Linked DNA regions of Homo sapiens: region 2 is linked to region 1. The links come from fine-mapping of genetic effects on gene expression. Tissue or cell type: cerebellum. Region 1 holds a variant in brackets; the other region holds the start of a gene. All regions are shown on one strand. Distances are from middle to middle.

Region 1 (2,760 bases):
AAACTGAAGAGTAGGAAACACTTCCTAACTCATTTTATGAAGCTAGCATTATTCTGATACCAAAGCCAGACAAAGCCATTACAAAAAAGAAAGCTACAGGCCAATATTTTTTTATGAATATTGATGCTAAATTCCTCAACAAAATACTGGCAAACTAAATTCAACAACATATTAAAAGGATTATACACCATAGCAAAGTAGGATTTATTCCTGAAATGGAAGGATTCAGCATATAAAACAAGTAATTAATATAATGTATACATAAACAGAATGAAAGAAAAAACACAGTTCTTTGCATTAATGCAAAAAAGCATTTGACAAACTTCAAACACCTTCATGATGATGAAGGGCTTGCCAATGTGCTGGGGGTTGCCACCTTCAAAAGGATGCTCCACAGGGTTCATGGCCACACCCCGTACTCGTGGCCTACAGTTCCTCTTTGCCTTATATTTGTGGTAGGCCCGGCCAGCCTTCAAGATGGATGCCCCTGCTGGCCGCAAAGTGGGTCTCATTGCTCCCCGCCGGACTGGACGTCTCCGGGGAACGAAGACTGTGCAGGAGAAAGAGAGCTAGTGCTGAGGGGCTCAATAAAGTTTGTCTTTATGCAAAAATAAAAGAAAAGCCCCTGTCCCTCTGCCTCTGCCCCTGCCCCTGCCTCTGCCTCTGCCACTGCCTCTCCACGGTCTCCCTCTGATGCCGACCCAAGGCTGGACTGTACTGCAACCATCTCGACTCACTGCAACCTCCCTGCCTGATTCTCCTGCCTCAGCCTGCCGAGTGCCTGGGATTGCAGGCGCGCGCCGCCACGCCTGACTGGTTTTCGTATTTTTTGGTGGAGACGGGGTTTCGCCGTGCTGGCCGGGCTGGTCTCCAGCTCCTGACCGCGAGTGATCTGCCAGCCTCGGCCTCCCGAGGTGCCGGGATTGCAGACGGAGTCTCGCTCACTCAGTGCTCAGTGTTGCCCAGGCTGGACTGCAGTGGCGTGATCTCGGCTCGCTACAACCTCCACCTCCCAGCCGCCTGTCTTGGCCTCCCAAAGTGCCGAGTTTGCAGCCTCTGCCCGGCCGCCACCCCGTCTAGGAAGTGAGGAGCGTCTCTGCCTGGCCGCCCATCGTCTGGGATGTGAGGAGCCCCTCTGCCCGGCCGCCCAGTCTGGGAAGTGCGGAGCGCCTCTTCCCTGCCGTCATCCCGTCTAGGAAGTGAGGAGCGTCTCTGCCCGGCCGCCCATCGTCTGGGATGTGGGGAGCGCCTCTGCCCCGCCGCCCCGTCCGAGATGTGAAGAGCGCCTCTGCCCGGCCGCGACCCCGTCTGGGAACTGAGGAGTGTCTCTGCCCCACCACCACCCCGTCTGGGAGGTGAGGAGCGTCTCTGACCGGCCGCCCCGCCTGAGAAGTGAGGAGCCCCTCCGCTCAACAGCCGCCCCGTCTGGGAAGTGAGGAGTGTCTCCGCCCGGCAGCCGCCCCGTCCGGGAGGTGGG[G/A]GGCAGCCCCCGCCCGGCCAGGCGCCTCGTCCGGGAGGTGGGGGGCAGCCCCCGCCCGGCCAGCCGCCCCGTCCGGGAGGTGGGTGGGGGGCGCCTCTGCCCGGCCGCCCCGTCTGGGAAGTGAGGAGCCCCTCTGCCCGGCCGCCACGCCGTCTGGGAGGTGTACCCAATAGCTCATTGAGAACGGGCCATGATGACGATGGCGGTTTTGTCGAATAGAAAAGGCGGAAATGTGGGGAAAACAGAGACCAGATTGTTACTGTGTCTGTGTAGAGAGAAGTAGACATAGGAGACTCCATTTTGTTCTGTACTAAGAAAAATTCTTCTGCCTTGGGATGCTGTTAATCTATAACCTTACCCCCAACCCCGTGCTCTCTGAAACATGTGCTGTGTCCACTAAGGGTTAAACGGATTAAGGGCGGTGCAAGATGTGCTTTGTTAAACAGATGCTTGAAGGCAGCATACTCGTTAAGAGTCATCACCACTCCCTAATCGCAAGTACCCAGGGACACAAACAGTGCGGAAGGCGGCAGGGCCCTCTGCCTAGGAAAACCAGAGACCTTTGTTCACATGTTTATCTGCTGACCTTCTCTCCACTATTGTCCTATGACCCTGCCAAATCCCCCTCTCCGAGAAACACCCAAGAATGATCAATGAATACTAAAAAAAAAAAGAAAAAGAAAAAAGAAAGAAAAAGAAAAAGAAGAACAAAGTTGGAGGCTTCATACTTCCTGACCTCAACATTTACTTTAAAGCTACAGTAATCAAAACAGTATGGTACTGGCATAAGGAGAGACATACAGACACAAGCGAATAGAGGGCCCAGAAATAAACTATGGCTTATATGGCCAACTGATTTGTGACAAGGGTGCCAGGGCCATTTAATGGAGAAAGAACAGACTTTTCAACAAATGGTGCTGGGAAAACTGGATATCTACATGCAAAAGAATGAAGTTGGATGTTTACCTTATAATACAGGGAAAAACTAACTTAAAAACAGATCAAAGACCTAAACATAGGTGCTAAAAACCTTAAAATTCTTAGATGAAAACATTGGAGAAAATCTTCATGACATATGGCAATGATTTTTTGGATATCATACCAAAAGCACAGAGAACAATGACAAAAATAGATAAATTAGACTTCATCAAATTGATAACATTTGTAGGCTGGGCACGGTGGCTCACTTCTGTAATCCCAGCACTTTGGGAGCCCAAGGCGGGTGGATCACCTGAGGTCAGGCGCTCAAGATCAGCCTGACCAATATGGTGACACCCCATCTC
Region 2 (2,760 bases), 41 kb after region 1:
TACTAAAAATACAAAAATTAGCCAGGTGCGGTGGTGGGTGCCTGTAATCCCAGCTACTCGGGAGGCTGAGGAGGCTGAGGCAGGAGAATCGCTTGAACACGGGAGGTGGAGGTTGCAGTGAGCCGAGGTCGCGCCACTGCACTCTAGCCTGGGCGACAGAGCAAGATTCCGTCAAAAAAAAAAAAAAATTAAAAAGATTTGCTTCCAACCACATAAGGGGAGGAGTGGTTTATAGATTAATAAAATTGCCACGAGTTGGTATTTCTTTTCTTTCATCTTGTTTTCTTTCTTTTTTTTTTTTTTTTGAGGCGCAGTTTCGCTGTTGTTGCCCAGGCTGGAGTGCAATGGCGCTATCTCGGCTAATCACAACCTCCGCCTCCTGGGTTTAAGCGATTCTCCTGCCTCAGCCTCCCTAGTAGCTGGGATTGCAGGCATGCACCACCACATCCGGCTAATTCTTTTTATTTTTAGTAGAAACAAGGTTTCTCCATTTTGGTCAGGCTGGTCTCAAACTCCCAACCTCAGGTGATCCGCCCACCTCGGCCTCCCAAAGTGCTGGGATTACAGGCGTGAGCCACCGCGCCAGGCCTTCTTCTTCTTTTTTTTTTTTTTTTTTTTTTTTTTTTGAGAGGAGTCTTGCACTGTCGCGCGGGCTGGTGTGCAGTGGTGTCATCTCGGCTCGCTGCAACCTCCGCCTCCAAGGTTCAAGCGATTCTCCTGCCTCAGTCTCCCGAGTAGCTAGGATTACAGGCGCCCGCCACCACGCCCAACTAGTTTTTTGTATTTTTAGTACAGACGAGGTTTTACTATGTTGGCCAGGTTGGTTTCGAACTCCTGACCTTGTGATCCGCCCGTCTCGGCCTCCCAAAGTGTTGGGATTACAGGCGTGAGCCACCGCGCCCGGCCGAGTTAGTAATTCTTGAAGGTGTGTCAGGTACATTGGATGCACTGTACTATTCTGTCTACCTTTGTATATATACTTTAAAGGTTTTTCCCCACAATTTCTCTGGGAAACCTGAACCTTTCTTCCCCGTGTGTTTAGAAGGGAAGGTGAGGAGAGTCAAAGGCACATGGAGCATTAACAGTTGGAATAAACGACAGAGACACGGAAACCTCCGAGGTTTCCAGAGCGGACCCGGAAATGACGCCAGGGGATGCAAACCCTTCTGCCCCTTTTTGCTACCCCTGAAGCTTACTGTTAGTGGTCGAGTTTTTCTGGAAGTGGGCTTCCGCGATCGCGGGGACCAACGCCCTGAGCTCTTGTGCCCAAAGGGGATCGCCAGGTTTTTTGATGCGGATCGAAAGGGACTGGCCCCGGAGCCTACAACCTGACGCAGGTGGGACTTGGGGAAATGTCGAGAAACCTAGGTCTGGGACTTGAGTTGGCTTCCAGGGCACACATTCTTGTTCAGAAGAAACACATTGCAAAAATCGGGAGGTGACGGGCAGATGAAGTGTCGGCGCTTCGCCTCGGGACTCCAGTGCAACCTATGGGGCTTTTGGAAATGAGGAAGTCGATGACTCTGCAGGGACTCCTCTGACCCAGGAGCAGATGGCGCTCGTCTGGGCACTCCCCAGGAGAAAAGGTGCATCGGGAAGCAGCCTGGCTTGTGGATGGTAATAAGTCACTGTTGATGGGTTGGGTGCAGGGAGGGATTTAAGTTCTTGAGCGACAGATGCTAGGGAGTTTACCTGCTCTGGATAACAGTATCTTGTGGAGGATAGTCACCTGGAAAACAGAAATGGCGTGACTGTGTTGAATACACTGTTTGATGATTCTGGGCATCAGGTGAATAGGAAATGTGTAACGTTATGGATGAGTGTGTGCTCATCGGACAGTAGCAGTGCATCTTAACAGTCGGCCTCTCAGTCCTCCTCTTCCTTAGAATCACCTATAGAGCTTTAAAATTTCCTGGATAATGTTAATGTGCAGCCAGCGATGATGACCATTGGGCTACAGTCAAATCCAAGAGGCGCATCTCATCCTTTGTTCTGATGGACAGAAACCATTATTCTGACATCGTGCCTGTTGGAGACATTGTACCTTAACTAGCATTTAATTCATGTGTGCTGGATTCGCTGAATGAAACTTACCAGCAGGGTACTGAATCTTGAATAATACAAGGAACGAGTAGAATAAGATAGTTCTCATTTTATCCTTATCTAATCTAAGAAATCTAGCAATATTTCTCTGTTTAAGTTTTTTTTCTTCAACAAAAAACAAAATACATGTAAGAGGATTTTCTGACACTGCTGGGGGCTCATAGAATTCTAGTGTCTAGTGTCTTTTCTGTCAGTTAATGTTACAAAGTTCAGTGGTGCTCCTTTTTTGAGATGGTGTCTAGCTCTGTCACTCAGGCTGGAGTGAAGTGGTGCCAACTTGGCTCACTGCATCCTCTGCTTCCCGGGTTCAAGCGATTCTCCTGCCTCAGCCTCCCAAGTAGTTAGGATTTCAGGTGTGTGCCACAACGCCCAGCTACTTAGTAGAGCCGAGGTTTCCCCATGTTGGCCAGGCTGGTCTCGAACTCCTGACCTCAAGTGATCCACACATCTCGGCTTCCCATAGTGCTGGGATTACAGTTGTGATGATCTTAAAACCTCTAACGATTTGGAAATATTCCTCCAGTGATCTTTGTTCTGTCGCAGTGATTGTAATAACATTTATTGAGGAGTTGTATGCCCAGTACTATTAAATAGGTTTACAAATTTTGTTATTTAATCCTCACAACTCTGTTAGAGAGATTGGATATTTTTATATCC

What was found. PIP is the estimated chance that this variant, and not a neighbour inherited with it, causes the effect.
Region 2: LINC01012 starts here. The variant in region 1 is fine-mapped to the expression of LINC01012 in cerebellum (GTEx, PIP 0.92).

The regions. Positions count from the first base shown.
Region 1 is chr6:27,652,253-27,655,012 of GRCh38, forward strand. It overlaps the pseudogene RPL8P1. Among named protein-coding and RNA genes, the nearest start is that of TRV-AAC3-1, 2.6 kb to the left of the region's middle. The variant G/A (reference allele first, on the strand shown) is at 1,478.
Region 2 is chr6:27,692,890-27,695,649 of GRCh38, forward strand. LINC01012 (long intergenic non-protein coding RNA 1012) reads left to right here and starts at 1,146. Exons shown (of 4, transcript NR_038294.1): 1 at 1,146-1,617.